Linked DNA regions of Homo sapiens. The protein of the gene in region 4 interacts with the protein of the main gene of each other region in a biochemical or structural test. Each region holds a gene or a part of one and is shown on either strand. Other genes may lie near its edges.

What was found. Proteins that work in one complex are often made in the same cells at the same time.
Region 1: the proteins of PTPRZ1 (region 4) and PDLIM1 interact in a test that uses a peptide from one of them, tested with the Homo sapiens proteins (one large-scale study listed by IntAct).
Region 2: the proteins of PTPRZ1 (region 4) and ARHGAP21 interact in a test that uses a peptide from one of them, tested with the Homo sapiens proteins (one large-scale study listed by IntAct).
Region 3: of the proteins of PTPRZ1 (region 4) and FYN, one has a biochemical effect on the other in vitro, tested with the Homo sapiens proteins (one study listed by BioGRID).

The regions. Positions count from the first base shown.
Region 1 is NC_000010.11:95,269,554-95,274,470, reverse strand, and holds part of PDLIM1 (PDZ and LIM domain protein 1), read left to right. Parts: intron 1-2,686; coding exon 2,687-2,838; intron 2,839-4,917. UniProt on the Homo sapiens protein: Cytoskeletal protein that may act as an adapter that brings other proteins (like kinases) to the cytoskeleton. Involved in assembly, disassembly and directioning of stress fibers in fibroblasts.
Region 2 is NC_000010.11:24,720,138-24,725,528, reverse strand, and holds the start of ARHGAP21 (rho GTPase-activating protein 21), read left to right. Parts: upstream 1-1,641; 5' UTR 1,642-1,967; intron 1,968-2,307; exon of another isoform or gene 2,308-2,372; intron 2,373-2,780; exon of another isoform or gene 2,781-3,043; intron 3,044-3,249; 5' UTR 3,250-3,629; coding exon 3,630-3,692; intron 3,693-5,391. UniProt on the Homo sapiens protein: Functions as a GTPase-activating protein (GAP) for RHOA and CDC42. Downstream partner of ARF1 which may control Golgi apparatus structure and function. Also required for CTNNA1 recruitment to adherens junctions.
Region 3 is NC_000006.12:111,694,503-111,699,419, reverse strand, and holds part of FYN (tyrosine-protein kinase Fyn), read left to right. Parts: intron 1-2,963; coding exon 2,964-3,143; intron 3,144-4,715; coding exon 4,716-4,792; intron 4,793-4,891; coding exon 4,892-4,917. UniProt on the Homo sapiens protein: Non-receptor tyrosine-protein kinase that plays a role in many biological processes including regulation of cell growth and survival, cell adhesion, integrin-mediated signaling, cytoskeletal remodeling, cell motility, immune response and axon guidance.
Region 4 is NC_000007.14:122,039,610-122,044,526, reverse strand, and holds part of PTPRZ1 (receptor-type tyrosine-protein phosphatase zeta isoform 1 precursor), read right to left. Parts: intron 3,712-4,917; coding exon 3,548-3,711; intron 1,920-3,547; coding exon 1,784-1,919; intron 106-1,783; coding exon 1-105. UniProt on the Homo sapiens protein: Protein tyrosine phosphatase that negatively regulates oligodendrocyte precursor proliferation in the embryonic spinal cord. Required for normal differentiation of the precursor cells into mature, fully myelinating oligodendrocytes.

The sequences.
Region 1 (4,917 bases), on a different chromosome or scaffold from region 4:
AATACAAAAAATTAGCTGGGCATGGTGGTGCAGCCTGTAATCCCAGCTACTCAGGAGGCTGAGACAGGAGAATCGCTTGAACCCGGGAGGTGGAGGTTGCAGTGAGCCGAGACTGCGCCACTGTACACCAACCTGGTCAACAAGAGCGAAACTCCGTCTCAAAAAAAAAAAAAAAAAGGATGACTGTGGGGGTATAGCTTAGATTGGAGGTGAAGGAAGGCCTCTTTGAGAAGAAGGGTTGTTTACACAGACACTTGGAAGATGAGAAGTTAATCAGGCAGAGGTAAAGGCAGGTGTGAAAGTCCTGAGGCCCTGTAGCTGGAGCCCAGTGGGGAAGAGGCATGATGTGGGTGGGGAGGGAGGCACTGGCTTTAGCGGCCTTGTTAAAGATTTTGGATTTCATCCTAAGGGGACTGCTCTTTGAAACTGCTAGATTTAGCTATGATAAATGAGTTCCATAAGGCATTATTCTCCTTGATTCAGGCTGCTCTCCTTGGAGTTAGAGTTTGTCAGTCAAGAACGCTTGCCAATCCCAAATAAAATGATGCTTAGAGCCGTTTAAAAACTGAGCCTGCGTTGTCCTTTAGTAACAGTGAAGTGTGTATGAAGATGCACCAGATCAGTCTTCTCAGGACAACAGGTCAGAAAACGGAGGAATTTTTTTTTATTGCATGCACTGGATGACTCAGAAGCTAACTCTCATTGTTGACTGAAATGAGAGCGGCCTGTGCTTGCCTGGATAAAAAGTCCTGTCCCAGTGGCTGGATGAGGGGACGATCTGAACCTTGAATCAGGAGGCTGCTTTCGTTTCCTAAAACCCAGATCTCTGGTAAACAAATGATGGGAGAGCCAGAAAGGAAGGTTAGGAGGTCAGGATCTCGGTACTGGTTTCCACATCCTGCCACATTCCAGGAGAGTTTTGCCTGATAAAGTCATAGCATGTGCGGGCCAGAAGGGACCTCAAGGATCAACTTGTCCTCATTTTTTGGGGTCAGGGTGCTGATGGGGAATGCACCATAATAGCGGCACCACACTAGCTGCGCTGAGGGCTAATCGGAAACTGTAGCTGCTGAAAACTGCATCAGATACTGAGGTTTAGGACCCAACTTGTGTGTCCTGGTTTGGTGCCTTGAAGAACCTGTTACCTGTGGTTCAGCCATAAGGAGACACCCAGGTGTTCATAAGATCTTCCTCAACTGGATCCCGAGAGTCAAGGGCCTTCTCCAAAGGGTGGCCAGAGCCCTGTGGGCACTGGGAGCCTGGGGGTGTTACTGCCACCTTGATCCTGCGGACTTGGAATTCCCATCCAGGAAGGTCTTGTAATGTGGAAAAAAAAAGTTGTGAACTTACCCTGGGATGATGACAGTAATATTTTTAGTATACCTTAGTTTAGAAAATCTAACCAGATACCTTGGTTAGAGATAGTACTCTGAGGTGAGTACTATTTCAAAATGAGTTTGGATCTTGTTCATTCTAATAGCATCTGTATTCACTTGAAAAATGGTTGTACATCAGTGTAGGAGATGTGATATGTATTGAGTCCGCATGTATTGCTCTGTAGGCAGGTGAATTTAAGGACCTATTGCAGTAATTGATTGGCTTCCCCCAAGCATCAATGATCTGTCAATTTGGAACCACTGGTTTTAGAAGCATCAGTCTGCAGAAAACCAGCCGTCTATAGGGAATGACCCTAGTCATTTTGGGAGATTAAACCAGTATAAACCTATACTACCATACTTTAGGATATCCTTGATTGCTTTTAACAATTTTTTTTTAAATTTTTATTTTATTATTATTATTATTTTTTGAGACGAAATCTCACTCTGTTGCCCAGGCTGGAGTACAGAGGCATGATCTTGGCTCACTGCAACCTCCACCTTCTGGGTTCAAGTGATCCTCCTGCCTCAGCCTCCTGAATAGCTGAGATCACACCCGGCTAATTTTTTTGTATTTTTGTTAGAGACAGGGTTTCACCATGCTGGCCAGGCTGGTCTCAAACTCGTGGCCTCAGGTGATCCGCCTGCCTTGGCCTCCCAAAGTGCTGGGATTACAGGCATGAGCCACCATGCCTGGTCAACAATTTTTTAAATTAAAAAGTAATTCAATATTATTGTAAAAAACATTGCAAAACTGTATAACTGTGAACAATTTAGTGTGCAGTGTTTCCACTTTCTTTTGTATATATAACATTATTAAGATTTTTAAAGAAATAGGGTATTATAGTATATAATGTTCTCTAAATGTGTGTGTGTGTGTTTTTTTAAATGTAATTGTTAACTAATTTTAAGGAAGCAAACGTGGTTCAGTGGGAAGGACATCAGATCTGTTCGGGGTTTGTTTCCTGGCTCAGTAATACACTAGTTGGAGGACCAGTAATATAATAATATACTAGTTGGGTGATCCTGGGTAAGTCATAGGTCTTTCTAAGCCTCAGATCCTGGTCTTGGAAATGGGGACTGCTATTTGTCCTCCTTTCTCATAAGGTTGCTATAGGGATACAATGAGATCATATTAGAAAAGCCCTCTTTGTCAATGATAATATAAATGATTGTTATTATTTAAGCTATGATTTCAGCCCTCTTTTCTTTTTCAGGGCTTTGCTCCATATCAGTGAATACTTAACTTGGTGGTAACTTAGTGGTTTGGAGACAAATAGTAACTAGCCTGCTTTCCCCTTTTTTTCTAGGTCACTCCTGGAAGCAAGGCGGCTCTAGCTAATTTATGTATTGGAGATGTAATCACAGCCATTGATGGGGAAAATACTAGCAATATGACACACTTGGAAGCTCAGAACAGAATCAAAGGCTGCACAGACAACTTGACTCTCACTGTAGCCAGGTGAAGCCTATGGAAACGTTTTGTTCATTTCTGATTGACTAGAAGCTGTTTGTGGGCAGGGACTGCCTTCCCTATCTCAGAATCCCCCAGACCTCCTAGCTCAGTGCCATGTATATACTATAGGCATGCCAAAAGGTCTGTGGAATTTGAACTTCAGATTGCTTATTTCCCCTCTATTTTTTTTTTTTTTTTTTTTGAGACGGAGTCTCACTCTGTTGCCCAGGCTGGAGTGCAGTGGTGCAATCTCAGCTCACTGCAACCTCTGCCTCCCGGGTTCAAGTGACTCTCCTGCCTTAGCCTCCTGAGTAGCTGGGATTACAGATGTGCACCACCACACCCAGCAAATTTTTGTATTTTTAGTAGAGATGGGGTTTCACCATGTTGGCCAGGCTGGCCTCGAACTCCTGACCTCAGGTGATCCACCTGCCTTGGCCTCCCAAAGTGCTAGGATTACAGGTGTGAGCCACCGTGCCCAGCCCCCCTCTGATTTTCACGGTGCTTATGATGTGGGCTTCTTTCAGTAAGATACTTGCATTTTCACTTGATCCAACTCAACCAAAATTTTGAGTAAGTAAAATGTCCTGGCCAGGTGCGGTGGCTCTCTTTGTAATCCCAGCACTTTGGGAGGCCGAGGCAGACAAATCACTTGAGGTCTGGAGTTTGAGACCAGCCTGGCCAACATGGTGAAACCCTATCTCCACTAAAAATTAAAAAATTAGCCAGGTGTGGTAGCGTGCACCTGTAGTTCCAGCTACTCGGGAGGCCGAGGCAGGAGAATCACTTGAACCCAGGAGGCAGAGTTTGCAGTGAGCTGAGATGGCGTCACTGCACTCCAGCCTGGGCGACAGAGCGAAACTCCATCTCAAAAAAAAAAATGTCCTTAGGATGCTGCTGCTACTGCATTGTGCTGAGCAGTGGGTACCATGCCAGGAGATTGCAATAACAGAGAAAAACTTGAACACATTAGCAGCAGAGTACTGAGTGTAACTTTAGGTACATGACAAGCAAGGAGCGCTGGGGATAAAAGAATGAATGAGGGTAGCACCTTGGGAGCTGTAATTAGGGTAGAATTTCCATTCTTCTTTCATTTAGCCTTGGAAGGGGTCCCGCAAAGGCAGGATTTCGGAAGTGATTTGGTTCAACCCTCAGTTGGCTCCCTGTTTCCTACTGCATCAAATTCAGATGTTTCATTCTGATCACCTGTTATCTCACTAACCTTAGCTGCCACAGCTCTTTGTCATGGAGCCTTTGGTTAGATTCTCATCTGTGAAGTATGTTTTTTGCTTTTTTTTTTTTGCTTTGTGGCACAGGACTGGCAGGTGGATCGAGTGTGGGGGAGTATATAAAAATATTTTGTACACTTCAGAGACCTACCCCATGAGAGGTACACTGTGTTATTACTACCCCCTCAAAAGCACATCTGCCCTTCATTCTCATCTCCATTTCTATCTTTGTCCAAATCCTCTCCTTCAAGCCCGAGTTCAGGACATTCATTCATTCATTGATTAATTGATTTTTTATTTGTTTACCGGCATGTTGAAAAGGGACATCTTGTATATCTGGCATAGACATTGTGACAAATATAAAGTTAAGTATGGCCAGGTATGGTGGCTCTAGTCTGTAATCCCAGCACTTTGGGAGGCCGAGGTGGGTAGATCACCTGAGGTTAGGAGTTCAAGACCAGCCTGGCCAACATGATGAAACCCTGTTTCTACAAAAACACAAAAAAATTAGCTAGGGATGATGGCAGGTGCCTGTAATCTCAGCTACTCGGGAGACTGGGCTGGGAGAATCGCTTGAGCCTGGGAAGCGGAGGTTGCAGTGAGCCAAGATCACGCCATTCATTGCACTCCAGCCTGGGCGACAGAGCGAGACTCTGTCTCAAAAAATAAATAAATAAAATAAATAAAGATAAGTATAAATATTTTCTACCTGCAAGAGAGGAAACAACGACACTAATGAAAACTGAGACTAAAGTAAAATCATTGCTCTGTGGTTGGTACAAAGAAAATAGTTTATAAGAGCAAAAGAGGGGCGTTCTTCTCTTTTTTTTTTTTTTTTGGGATGGAGTCTCACTCT
Region 2 (5,391 bases), on a different chromosome or scaffold from region 4:
AGCACTGGATACTGCTACAGCCACTGGGCTATTTAGTAAATTACCATCTGACTGAAATACAGTCCTTGTATTTTATTCTATTTTTCTTTTCTTGATTATTAGCTGACTTGTTTGGTGACAGGCTGTCAAGAACACGCAAATTTCATGGCCATATAAAAATGATCTCGTCAACGTCTTCCCTCGAATTGAAGCGGAGGATTTAGTTGTAGATTTGGTTTGGCACCTTCCACTTTAAGGAAGATGTAAAAACTAAGGCGCAGGTACTCCAGCTGCAGGGAGTGTTTTTTGTCCCCGCTCCCCTGTCCCCCATAAAGAAACAGGACCTCAGGTGGTGGGCGGGCGGGGAAGGAGAAGGGATGTTTCTAAGTCTACAGGGGAGAGTGTAGAAAGAAAGAAGGAAAAGGTAAGAGGACTCCACAGTTTCTAGGTTTTGTTCTTCTTTTTTTCCCTCTGGACAGCGGTGGCAGCTGATCAGACACAATAGCTGGCAGTCCCCGGCCGCAGTGAGGATAAAAATGACCCTCAACAGCACCAGCAGGAGCACCGAGAAGGGGAGGGGAGTGTGTATGGGAGGGGGCGAGGATGAGGGTGACAAGGTGACAAACGCTGCCTCTGACTGCGAGCAACTCCCCCTCCAGCCCCGCGAGGCTCGGAGCCGGGGAGCCACCTCCCCGGAGCGGGGCGGGGTGGGAAGGAGAGGCCGAGGGGGCGGTGGCCTTCACCCGGGGGCGGGGAAGAGGGCGGAGGGAAGCCTGATTTACCAGCCCCTGATTGGTTCGCGTTCTCTCGTCGCGTCTCCCGATTGGGTAATTTGCAGCGGGAGATGTTGTGAGGCACGGCGGGGCGGAGCGAGCTGCCGGGGTCTGTGACAAGGCCCGGGAATTGGGTGGGGAGGGTGGCGGTTGTGCCGCGGCTCCGGAGCCGCTGTGACCTGGAGTGTGGCGGACAGAGAAGCGCAGCCGCCTCTCCACAGTTCCGCTAGCCGCGCCAAATTCGCTCAGCCGCTCTGCAGAATTTATAAAAGGGAAAGAACTGAATGAGCAACGCTTGGCTAACTTCCCCCTTCCCACCACAGGAAGAGATTTTTGCTGTGAGGCGTGAGGGGACACTCCCTTATCTGGAAGTCCCACGTCTCGTCGCAGCTTCATTGCCTTCCCGCTGCAAAAAAGGGGTGGGGGCACAATTTGCCAAGCCCTGTCCCCCAATCTAGGACCTTTGATCCCTGGAGTCTGCAGATGTCGCTGTTATAGGCTTGTCCCCCTCTCCACCCCAGACGTCTACCACCAGGTCTCCTTTCCCGGGAGCAAGCCCATCCCTGGACGCTGCCGTTCAGCGCTTGGGAGACTGCAGGGGCGGGGAGCGTTGTGTGCCTGGTTTTGGGGTGCTGGGGGGCGAGGGCTTGTAGGTCCCGCGACCCACGGGGAGGGGGCAGGCGAGCACCCCGCTCCGGCCTCCGGCTAATCCCCCTTCTCCAGCGTCGGTTCCCCGGTCCCGTGTTATTCAAGACAGAAAATATTCAGCCCCAGAGCCTCCCCTGGGGAGGGGAGGGGAAGGAGGTGGAGTGGGAGGAGGTGGATCCAGGGAGGAAGAAGCGAGAAATCCGCCCCCGGGAAACAGCTCCGCGCGGCCACGGAGCGAGGCGCTTCTGTCACTTGGCGTTCGCGGGCGCCGGAGCTGGGCCCCGGCCCGGCCCGGCGAGGCGAGGGGAGAGTCCGGCGGCCGCCGCCCCGCCCCACGCCCTCCTGCGGCGGCCGAGAGCCCGGGGCCGGCCGGGGCAGGTCGCGGCGGTGCCTGGGAGCGGCCGGCCGGGGGCGGCGGCCTCGGAGCGCGGCGGCGGCGGCGGCGGCGGCGGCGGGCAGCGCGGGATCGTCCGGCTGCGGGGTCCGGCTCACGCCGGGCGGGCGGGCGGGGCGCGCTGTCCCGGAGCCGGCCAGCCCCGTGCGGATCCACTCGTCCCGCTTCCTCTGGTGCGTGTCTGGTTTCTTTTCCGTCTCAGCCGAGAGGGCGCTGCGCTCGCGGGCCGTGGAGTGCCCGGCTTGCCGCGGGCTCTCTCCCTTCCCGCCACAGGCCACCCGGCCGGGCGCTGGCTCGGGGCCGGAGGGAGCCCGCGGCGGGCGCCCGGCGGGGGCGGAGGGGCCGCGCCCGCGTGTGCGGAGCAAGGGCGGGCGGCGGGGCGGAGGGAAGGGCACAAAGGCCGGCGGTGGGCGCTGGGGTCCGGCCGGCCAGCCTTGGAGGAGGGGCGCCTGGGGCCGCTCATGAATATTAACCGAGCCTGCGGCCTAGCGCGTCCCGGCCGGGCCCGGCGCCCGGCCAGCGTCTCCGCTTCAGCTCGCCGCCGCGCTTCGGCCGCCGGGCCCGAGCGGGCGGGAAGGGTAAGGCCCCCGGTTTTGTCTCGCCCCGGGGCTCCTAGCACCTTTGAGAAAGTCCATATTGGGGCCGCTCTCCTCGGGAGCTCGAGGTCCCCGACCCGCCTCAGGAAGGGGCGGGGGAATCGTGGGGAGGTGGGTGGTGGTTTGCTTTTTCTCGTTTTTTCCCCCTAGGTGGCCACAGGGGAAGGGAAGCCGTGTCGAGTGGTAGTTGGGGGAAAAGCCGCGACTTCAGAGTTGCTCGGGTGTAGCTCCAGAATCATGCCCTGGAGCGGGAGCGGCGCCGGCGTCCCACCCGCGGCCGCGCACGCCTCCCCGGCCGTCCCCACCCAGCCCCGCCGCGGGCCAAGGAAAACAGCCGCCTCCTCGGGGACGCCGGCCGGGGCGGAGGGGCGGAGGGGCGGCGCCCGAGTCACCCGGAGACGCCGCCGAGCCCACGCCGGCCCCAGCCAGGCTGGCTTTGTGCTTGCGTTTTTGGGGGGCGGAGGGGAGCGAAGAGGGGGCTTGGAAAGTGTGATCCCATTTCAGCCTCGTGGGGGAGAAAACTTCACCGAAGTGTCCCTGTCTGGGTGATGCAGAAAACAACATGCACAGCCCTCTGCTCTACCCAGGAAAGACATGAATTAAAATGCACTTGAATGGGGAACATTTTTTCTTGAAGGCTGCATAACAGCCAGGTGTGTTTGACGCAACCGCTGGGCAGTTTCGAGATTTCTCTTTTTTAAACACCCCCTCGAATTTATAGGCTTTTTGTTTGTTTACGTTAAAATTTTTTTTTGTTTGTTTTGCTCGGGAGGAAACGCGAACTTGGTGTGGACATGTGGGCAAGACAGTGATAGGCGCCTGGAGAAAGTTCATGACCTTTAACTTCTCGTTTTCCTAGGATCTCTCTAGGAGCTGACACTCGAACCTTCACGACCCATTCGGATTTTTCCAGGACTCAGGAGTGGCACTGGGAAGAAGGGGACCGCTTTCTGCAATTGGCCTCGACACTGGCTGCCAAGAAGACCTGTCGCCTTTGTTTTTAAGTCTCCAGAAATGGAAGAAGAAGGCGAAGTCAGTTGAAGTCACGAGAAATCAGCGAGGCATTTGAAGGCGCTTCCTGAAAACCTTTATTCCCTGGCACGTTGTCTGTTTCAACAGCCCTGCCCCTCCTCGGAGCCTGCTTGTGGAATTCTTCCCCTTCGGGTGTGTGGTGGCATTCCCCGCCACGTCCAATGTGGACTCCAAAGGATTTGTCCCTTCTTTGTCATTTGAAATGAAATGATGGCCACGCGTCGGACTGGTCTGTCTGAGGGAGATGGTGACAAGCTCAAGGCCTGCGAGGTAAGCGCGGAGCCAGCGTTCCTGGCCGGCAGGGCGGTGGCCTGTGTCTTGAGCGTCCTGCAAGTTGGGGGTTACCGGCCACGGGGCCTCACTAGGGGCTTCCCGGGGCTTTGAGCCTGTTGGCGGGAGCGCCCCAGCTTAACCAGTAGCGAGGAGAAGCCTGGCCCACGTCTGTTTCCAGGGACTCCCGTGTTTCTTTTGCAAGAACATGTCCCGCAGTTTGGAATGTCCTCATCTTGGTCACCCCTTCTCAGAGCCAGGAATTCTCCCGTCTCTGTGGCTGTGGATGCTACAAGCCTGAGAATGGGCACCTCAGTATCCGTTTTCCTTCAGTCCCCTTCCGAGATATTTGGAGTTGAGCTGGTTGGGGGTGGCTTTCAGCATTTGTGTCTGCTCCAAGGTGCAGAGAGGGCAGCTAGTATGCTTGTTGCACCTGGAACTTAGTCTTTCTTTGGTACTGACGAGGGGAGTCTGGCTGCTGTTGCTGCAGATCTCTGCTTTAGGTAGAAAAAGAAGTGTTTTTCCGTGAATAGTTTAAGCACAGCCTTGGAAAACGACCTTACAGAGTCGTAATTCCAACTCCCGGAAAAATCTCCTGCCTTTACTGTTCTCTTATTTATACCCTCCCTTTCACTACTCTGAAGTTCTGTGAGCTGCTCTGGGGTGTCAGGTGGGTTGCGTTGCTGGTTAGGGTAGCATCTAGCATCTAACATCTTCCCAAGGGCCCAGAGATTTTACTCCAGACTTCCTGAAAATTTTTGAGCAGGCAGGACAGAAATCATAGAAAATACATTGATTTATGACACGCATATACTCTGTTGCCTCTCACCTTTTTTTTTTTTCCTCGTGTTTGGAGATTGAAGTATTCGGAATTTACTTCTATTATGAATATACTATGTTTATCATTGGCGGTTCCTGTAATTTGTTCTTTAAATAGACTGAATATTGTTATCCTTTAAATTTTACTTTTGAGATGCCTATGTTTTCATTGAAGGGTTGAGGATTACTTTAGACAATAACATACCCAAATGAACCCTCATTCACTGTCTCACTTTCTTTTGCACCGGATGTTAAATTTTAACTTCATAGTCCTTGAAACAAGGGCTGGCTCTAAGTGTGTGAGTTTTGGCATTTTAATAAAAATGAATCAGAAGTTAAATTTTGGTTCATAAAGCAAGCGGAGAAACTTGCTTCATGCAGCTTACTTCATGTCGAATTAGAAAGTTTATGCAGAAAACGTTGTGAGGTACAGTGTGCTATTACTGTACAATTTATTAGGCAGAACTGTAGGTTTACATTTAGAATCAGTGTTTTACTTTTTGACATCTGTAAACACCTGCTTGCAGGCAAAAGCATGATTAAGTGGAACACCACAATCCTCTGATCACGGTAAACCATAATAACTCCTTTTGGAAGGCCTACCTGCAACCTGGTGATTGCTTAATGTGTATTGCAGTTACATAATAATATGTATTGTGGTCCTGAAGCCTTATTTGTCATTGTCTTGTGAATACTTTAATTAGCATTGTATTTGCATTCTGTTTGCAAGAACTAATGTTATTTGATTTTTTTTTTTTTTTTTGGTCATTTAAGAGATGTCCTGAAACCAAGAATTTAGACACATCTTGTCCTTGGCTAGCAAGCAGTATTTCCAGTTTGTTGCACACTTGGCTTTTATTAACAATGACAGTTATGTATT
Region 3 (4,917 bases), on a different chromosome or scaffold from region 4:
ACACTTAACCTGGATAACTAGACGGGCACAGGCCATCCAGATTTTCAGAATATGCTGATACCTTGCTGTGCTCATCTGTCCTACTTCATGTGGTTAATTAAGGCACCCGCAGAACAGGAAACCAGTACACTATGAATCTGGTGTTTCCTCTTCCTAAGAAATGGGAAGGTAAGATACTGTATATGGGCAGCCATAAGAAAGACCATGGACGTTTTGCTCAATGGGCCTGGGTTTGAATCCTTACTAGCTAATTAACCACGAACAAGGGGCATATTTAACTCCTTTAAGCCTCAGTTTTTTCATCTGTAAAATTGGAATGATACCTTTTTGTTGTTGTTGAGACGGAGTCTTGCTCTATCACTAGGCTGGAGTGCAATGGCGCGATATTGGCTCACTGCAACCTCCACCTCCCAGGTTCGAGTGATTCTCCTGCCTCAGCCTCCCGAGTAGCTGGGATTACAGGTGCCTGCCACCACGCCCAGCTAATTTTTGTATTTTTAGTAGAGACGGAGTTTCACCATGTTGGCCAGAATGGTCTCGATCTCCTGACCTGGTGGTCTGCCAGCTTCATCCTCCCAAAGTGCTGGGATTACAGGCGTGAGCCACCACGCCCGGCTGGAATGATACTTATTTAAAGGATTATTTTTAGGATTACATGGGTTAATATGTTTAAAGTCCCTTGCAGATAGTAGATATTCAGTAGAGATACATACTTCTCTTTATTTGATTGTCATTGATAAGGCTGGCTGCACTGGGCCTTTGTAATTTCTTTTATAGCCCTTTTGGGTCAGTTACAGCTTTGCTTAGAAACAATTCATGGGTTTAGGCCCCACTCAAAAACATGTTTCAGTAAAACAATATTAATACTTATGGAATCCTCTATCTTCCTTCCTCAGAACTCATTAAAAACAATATCGATCAGTACCCTTTGCTACGTGTGGGTATAGATCTTTAGGTGTGGTCTGCATTAAAAGAGTTAATACAGGTGGCCGGGCACAGTGGCTCACACCTGTAATCCCAGCACTTTGGGAGGCCAAGGCAGGCAGATCACCTGAGGTCAGGAGTTTGAGACCAGCCTGACCAGCATGGAGAAACCCTGCCTCTACTAAAAATACAAAATTAGCCGGGCATGGTGGTGCATGCCTGTAATCCCAGCTACTCAGGAGGCTGAGGCAGGAGAATCACTTGAACCTGGGAGGTGGAGGTTGCGGTGAGCGGAGATCGCACCATTGCACCATTGCACTCCAGCCTGGGCAACAAAAGCGAAACTCCGTCTCAAGAAAAGAAAAAAAAAGAGTTAATACAGTTAAAGCACTTAAAACATAGCCCAGCAAATGATAAGTACTACAAAGATGTATGTAGGTATGTTAGGTGGATAAATAGGTAGTAGACAGACATACACATATATATGTATGAGTTAGCTAGTTTAATAAATCCACATTATTGTGTCCATCTCTCTCTGGACTTAATCTCAAGTATCGTAAAATATATGACCTCCTTCTTCCTCATTCACCCTCTAATAATAGAGGATTTTAGTCAAATTACTCACACAATCACAGAGAATTGGACCCTATTAGAAAATTTATTTTCAAATTTTACAAATATCAACTTTAAATCATTACATATACTGTTCACATTTTGTTTTCCAATAAACACAAGACAACATGCCCATCAGAATTGGGATGGATGTCTGTGTAATTGACGAAGTTTGTATTACAGAGGAAGATCTTAATGTATTTAGAATTTTGGGTGCTGACTCTTAAATAGCAAAGATCACTTATAAATTGTCAAATTTCCCATGAATGCTTAGTGGGCAGATATTTTATGAAGTTTAAATGAACTTTTCTTTAAGCCACTTGTTTTTTCATAATTTATATTTTGTAGGTTGCATGTTGTAATTGTATGAACCATGTCTTTAACAGGATAATAAGAACTCCAATTTACAGAATCCTTAAATTCCAAAGTCAGTTATATTAAATATAAAAATCTTAATTTAAACCAGTCTTCTTTTTCAAATAGAAAATAATCTAAATTAGCAGATTTCTTCCCCTTTATAAAGTTATTCTTAAGCATCATAGGTCTAATAATGGAATACACAAAGAACCTAGGTATGGTTTTGTTTTTTGAATGCTGGGGCTGAAAGAGACCCAAAAGATAATCCAGTTCCATTCCTATATTTTACAGATGAGGTAACTGAGGACAATCATAATCCAGGCCTTGCCTTCAGATTTGCTAGATTTTTTTTTAACATGCTAAATTTAAATATTTCTGTTCCCTCTCAGCTGCTGTTTAATTTCCCCTGTCTACCTACCTGACAGAAGCCATTGTTCTTGTGGCTAGCCATCAGTAAAGCTGAGGAAATTTGCCTTACCTTGTTGAAGTATTGGCAAGCAGACTGTGAGCTCCTTGCCAGTGCTTATCAGCATGCTTGGCACACCTGTGCAAGGACTCAGTCAAGTAACTTGTCCATTGCAGACATTGAAAGTCTAGAGGTAATTTCCAGACATCCTCATGTGGTGCCATATTTTTAAATGGCACACCCCATAAACTTAAATAATCTAATTTCTTCCATGCACACTGTACTCCCTAAGGGACAGCTATTAGATGGCCAGGCCTGTTCCAACCCCTGGACTTTCATCACTGTATGGTGCAGAGCTTTTGGTATAAATGTGTAATCATATGACTGAGCCAAAAAAAGAGAGAGTGGTAATATATCAAAATTTAAAAAAATTTTAATGAGTTATAAATCTTAATATAGCCATCTTAGCCATAACCACAAATAAACTCATTTTTTCTGTTAAAATACTTGACAGAGTCCTTGCAATTGAATGTCTTTGTTCAACAAAAACTGTATTAAGTGTTTTAAATTTAAAATCTAATCTTATGCAAATAGCTGGTGGTCAAAACCTTTTTCCATCAAAAGAAGATCTTTGGTTTGACTTCATATTCTGGGATGTTTGTAGGTACCTGGAATGGAAACACAAAAGTAGCCATAAAGACTCTTAAACCAGGCACAATGTCCCCCGAATCATTCCTTGAGGAAGCGCAGATCATGAAGAAGCTGAAGCACGACAAGCTGGTCCAGCTCTATGCAGTGGTGTCTGAGGAGCCCATCTACATCGTCACCGAGTATATGAACAAAGGTTGGGCAACACCTCTCCTGTCTCCAGCTCACAGTGCCTTAAGGGGTTGTTTAGGGGAGAGAAATGGAAGTTTCCTACTTGCTACTTTTCTAGTTTCTGCCTGGGTCAAGTATTCCCATTAGGAACCACCAGTTATGTGCTCGTTAATGAAAACATTTTTTAAAACAGACTAACCTTGCGTTTACCCCACCCCAAATCCTTATGAAATGCCAAATACTTTTTACATGTTATGTGTGTCAGAAATTCAAGCTCCTCTCCATAATTAAAACATTCATTTTTAATATCAGGGTGGTACGGAGGGTTATGATAGTTTGCTGTTATTTTGAATGTAGTAGCTTTTGTTACATTTCCTTTTTGCAGGGCTAAACAATTAATATCAGACACTGGTCTCTAAGCTAAGTTTAGTCTCCATCATTTCAACATCTTTTTTATTTCCAGCTCTCTTCTTAAACGTCAGGCGATGAAATTACATGCTTTCAGAGACCACATTTATTCTCACATTCTCTCCCCTACAACCCCTCTGTCTTCCTAATCAAACCAGCATTGTTAGGGATAAGGCCAGAGATCATTTTGTTTTGGAAAAATAGATGAACCAAACAAGAAACAGCCTTAAAAGGCAATACATTGTTTATCAGAGGATACCAGTGTAATTTTTCTTTTCCATGTACTTTCTTTTAAAATTTAATGGGAATTTTTTTTTCTGGCAAACGGTTTGTCCTTTGTATCCAGGGTTATTTTGTAAATAACTTTGTGATTAAAGCATAAAATATCACTGATGACCATCATAAGCCTCCAGCTTCTGCAAATGATTATCCCTGCTTTGGTGTTAGTTCTAAGCCTTCTTAGGCTGTGTTATAATAGTGGCTCTGAAGCTTCCAATGTTTCATTTCAGATGTCTGATTTAAGGCTTGGCTGGCTGTGATCTAATTAAGGGGAACCATCTGCCCCACCCATATTCTTCAGATTGTCTTTTCTTGATTCAAAATCTGTAAATAAGCTAAGCTAGTGAGTCTCAAACTTTACCTTGTATTATTAGAATCACCTGTAGGCCTTCTTAAAACCCAAGTTTCTGGACCCAACCTTCAAAGTTTCTGATTTACTCGATCTGGGATGGGACCTGAGAATTTGCATATCTAACAAGTTCCCTTGTGTTATTGTAGCTGCTGGTCCCAGGACCACAGTTTTGGACCACTCAGCTGGGCTGTATTTTCCCCACATCAATTCTTTGTGCAGGGGTGATTGGGGAATGGGATTGAAGAGGTGCAGTTCTTCATAGGTTCCTCTTTATGACATACAGGGAGATTGAGTCCCATTTCTTCTAGTTTTATCAAATATATGTTGTTATTCCTAGAAATGGAATTAATGCTGTTTGTTTTTAAAAGGTAACTGTTACTTCTCCATGCCTATACTTTTTTCTACCCTGCTTTTTTATATAAACCTTTTTGTCCCCCCATGTGGATGGCATTATTCCATTTGACTACCTTATTACTTTTAATAAGAAAACCAAATACAGCTCTCTGTTGGGAATTATCTTTCAAAGTAAATTGAAATGATTTTATGTTTTGTTCATAGGAAGTTTACTGGATTTCTTAAAAGATGGAGAAGGAAGAGCTCTGAAATTACCAAATCTTGTGGACATGGCAGCACAGGTAGGCCCTGCAGGGTAACTTGATGTGCCATAGATTTAATGACGTGTCTAAGTACATTGGGTCGTGGTGTAACATGTCCTGTTCCCTGGGTTTCCACAGGTGGCTGCAGGAATGGCTTACATCGA
Region 4 (4,917 bases):
AATGAGGAGTGCATTAACATAGGCATGAATATGACTGTCCAGCACCTCAGTTTCTTTACTAAGTATGGCCTCAACCAGTGTATCATGAATGAAGACATATTGCTCCTGGCAAAACAATGACAATAAGCAACATTAGTTCAAGTTTTCCTCATATGTATCTACCTACAAACATAGTACCTTCCATTGACAGACAAGGAGAGTTTTACAGAATGGGGGAAGACCCACACAAGATTGCTTACAAAACCTGGAAGGAAGTCAGACAGAGGAAAGGAAGTGGTCACAGAAGAAAGAACCTCTTCTCATTCCTTACCTCTTCATTTATTATGTATTGTTGGCAATACACAATAGGTTAGGAGGCAGGAAGAGTTGGCAAGGCAAAGGAATGTCCTCTCTGCCTATCCTTCAAACTTGACACCTCTATACTTCATGAGAGGGCTTTCTTGACTTCTACACTTCTGGTGGGCCTACCCCTTCTGGCAACGCCAACTCTCCTTTTCGCTTGTCATATACAATTTAACTCAATTTTATATATAGTTAATAGTTCTCTGATATTTCACATACGGGACTCTTTCTTGGTCTTATATGACCAGAATGTTATTTTTTAATGTTTATTTTAAGTTCAGGGGTACATGTGCAGGTTTGTTACACAGGTCAACTTGTGTCATGGGGGTTTGTTGTATAGACTATTTCATCACCCAGGTATTAAGGCTCATACCCATTAGTCCATTAGTTATTTTTCCTGATTCTCTCCCTCCTGCCATCCTCCACCCTCTGAAAGGCCCCAGTGTGTGTTGTTCCCCTCTATGTCTCCATGTGTTCTCATCATTTAGCTCCCACTTATAAGTGAGAACATGTGGTATTTGGTTTTCTGTTCCTGTGTAAGTTTGCTTAGGATAATGGATGGAAGGATGTTTGGTGTGGTTTCGTTTTGAAGCCCACTCAGCCATGTGTTTCTGATTGCTTTCAAGCTGCCATTCATAGGTTTCCATTTAAGTTCATTTTTATTTAGAAACAGTGAAGATAAAATGCAGATTTGCTGACACTGTTCTGTCACTTACGGGTAAACTATATGGGCTTAAAATGGATATAATTTAAGCATAATTCATATTTTTTTAAAAAATGAATTGATTCATCCACTATGTATATGAAGAACTTGAGATTTTTGCTAGCAAGGATGTGTGTGGACCACTCTACTTAGACTTTTGCTGTATCTTCTCTGTGACCAGTGTCATTTTAAAGGATATTCCCTATTTGGGGTCACAAAACAGATAAAATTTATCTGGCTCATTCATGACATAGCTGCAGTTACTGGTGTCATGGGTTGAATGGTGTCCCCCCACAAAGATATATTAAAGCTCTAACCGCCTGATAACTCAGAGTGTGATTTTATTTGCATAAAAGTTTGTTACAGATGTAATCAGTTAAGATGAGATCAACTGGAGGAGGAGGATAACTGGTATGCTTATAAGAGGAGGAAAATTTGGATACAGACACAGACACAGAGGGAAACAGCCAAGTGAAGACTGAGACTGGAATTGTGCTGCCACAAGCCACGCAATGCATGGGGCTACCAGGAGATGAAAGAGGCAAGGAAGAATCTTCTAGAGGCTTCTGGAAGGGCATGGGCCTACAGACATCAGAACTATGAGACAATAAACTTCTGTTGTTCTAACCCACCCAGTTTGTATTACTTTGTTTTGCAGTCCTAGGAGATGAATACACCTACATTTTAGTGACATTTCCATACCTTAGATGAATAAAATCATCTTTTTAAAAATCATACCTCAGTTTGTACCAAATAATTTCTTTGTGAACGGATGTGTTTTAAGAAGCCAAATATGTTGACAGTTCCTTCGTGTTGAATCTGCTGCAACATACTGTCTAGCACAATATATGTGCCTGTTCTTCCAACTCCAGCACTGAAGAGAAGACCAAGAAATAAATATTTCAATGTTAAGCATAAAATAAATTTGAAAAATAGATCACTACTGGTTGTCATGTTGATTAAAATAACTTCCTTCTTCAAGCGAGTGAGCCACACAATACATTTGGCAATTCAATATTGTAAACAGTTTAGTAATTAAGCGTAATGCTTTACACAACAAATTTAGAAGTACCCTTTCTAATGTTTTGTCATGTGTCTAATTGCAAAACAACCTCACTATATCTGTTGGAGATTTTAAAACTTTCAAAAACCATATTTATTATTCATTGTATATTGTACAATGAAAATATTATGTATCAGAGTGTGGCAAATAGACATTTAATCTGACAAAAGTGAAAGCTTTAACTTCACCAAATTCTGAAAAGAAAAAGTCCCTAGGTCTATGTTTCCAGGTAGACATGTTTGTAAAGATTTCTGCGTTAATGGGAAAAAGAATTTGATAAAGCTTTCTGCTGAAAATATCATTTCAGTGAGATTGTGAGGAATAAAGCATGACTTCAGTTATTTCTAAAGGGCCATTATCTATCGACTTCTTCAAAGCCTCTAGCAGAGGGACAGAATTCACGGACAGGGATTCTTTTCAAATGTTCCGACAAGTAGGAAGTGCTAGAGTGGAAAATTAGCACCTGCTCTGCACAATAGCCTGGTCCTTCTCCGTTTGCTAGGAAACAATCCCTGACCTTCAGCACTATTTTTCTTGCATCTTCCTGTTTTCCTCAGTTTATAATCAGGCTAACAGATTAAAAAGCCTCAAGATGGGTCTCTCAAATTTAACTCCTGAGATGGTAATTAGAATGTGTTAGATAAGCTATATATCAAAGGCAAACACTTGATTCTCTAAAAACACACTGCTTTGATAACAATACTTCACATAGAAACAAATTTGATTTTTGTGATCTAAGGCTTGGCACACAGTCAGCACTCAATAAATATTAACTGCTATTATTATTTTAACTGAAAACATTAAATAAGGATTTTCAACATTTTTCCTCTTTCATTGAAACATCATTATTTCTATTTATCAACCTAGTCTTGGAAATTAAAAAATCTTGGCAACAATGAATTGACAATACATTCAATGTAATGTATTAAAACTCAAGAAAATGAAAAAGGGATTCTGGTCCCAAAATGTTTAAAAACAACTTAAATATATTTTGCCAAATTTCTCACAATCTGTGTGCTTTGGCTTCTGTGATACAAGCCTGGCATAATAATTCTAAAACAGAATTTTAACTCCTAGGGACAGGGGTTGTAGCTCAAGCATTTTTATCCCATGGTATTATATGTTGAGGTAAATATTTGTTTAACAACAAAAACATTGTTCCACCTGCCTCAAATAGTTAATAAGCTGAAATGCAGTTGAACAATCAAATAAAATAATCAACATCAAAAAATATGTGGTGCTTAGAAATATTCAGCAATCCAATTCTGAGTCTGGCATGTTCATTTCCTAGTGATCAATACTTATGAAAATGAACATATAATTTCATCACCCTCATTTCAAGAAATCATTCCCATTTGGGCAAAAGCTTTGTTCCATTGATTTCCTTTTTGCAAGTATAAGCAATTCTATGGGTTTAGAGGCACATCTCTGAGACTCACCTGCAGTGGACGACAACAGGCCCCACTGCATGGCGCTTGGCATAGGCTGCCTTTCTCACAAAGGTCAGCACTGGCAGGGAGTACTCTGGTACTCCCATGTCAGGCCACTGCGTGTAGTGATACTGTGTGACCACACGTCCACTGGGTCTTCCTTTCTGGGAGCCCTGGAAAAGTTCAGACAGTTAATAACAGTCAAACACACACACACACACACACACACACACACACACACACACACACACACACACACGGTTCTTCAACAGCAAGTCAGGAATCATAGCTTGATTTGATGTTGAGGGTCCATAATGAATGAAAGAAAGTAGAGTGTCATTTGTGATGGTTAATTTTGTGTCCACTTGGCTATACTATGGTGGCCCATTGTTTGGTCAACACTAATCACACAAAATGTTGCTGTAAAGGTATTTTGTTTAGATGTGATTAACATGTAAGTCAGCAGACTTTGAGTAAAGCAAATCATAGTCCATAATGTGGGTGAGCTCCATTCAACCACTTGAAGGCTGTAAGAACAAAGACTGATAGGATAGGTTACCTGAAGAATAAAGAATTCTTCTCAACAGTGCAACGTAAAGATCCTACCAGAATTTCTAGGCTGCCAGCCTGTCCTACAGGTTTAAGATTTGCTAATCCCCATGATCATGTGAGTCAATTCTTAAAAATGTAAACCTCTCTATCTCTCTATTCTGTTGGTTCTGTTTCTTTGAAGAACCTGAGTAATACGTTATTCTTCGTGTTTCCTTTCTTTTTCTTGTTTCACTCTCCACTCTTTTTAGTTGAATATTGGGATTGTGTCAGGGCCATCCTATGCAGTTGCCACACAAGGTAGGAATTTCTGTTCATGTATCACATTCACTTTAAACATCAGCAACAAAACCAGTCTGGCTCCAAAGCCACAACAGGCATCTAGAGACCTGAAAGAAACCTTTAGGACTGACGGCAGCTGTGATAAGAATTCTTTTTTTTTTTCTTTTCTTTTTTTTTTGACAGAGTCTCACTCTGTTGCCCAGGCTGGAGTGCAGTGGCATGATCTTAGCTCACTGCAACCTCTGCCTCCTGGGTACATGTGATTCCTGTGCTTCAGCCTCCCAAGTGTGCACCACCACACTCAGCAAATTTTTGCATTTTTAGTAGATATGGGGTTTCACCATGTTGGCCAGGCTAGTCTCGACCTCCTGACCTCAAGTAATTCACCCACCTTGGCCTCCCAATGTCCTGGGATTACAGGCATAAGCCATGCACCTGGCCTGGTTACAAGAATTTTTAATGCCTTTAGTTATATGCTTTTTACCCTTTCTTGGTTCTATCGCTTATTCACTTAAAAAATGACCAAATGCATTGTTCACTTGATTATG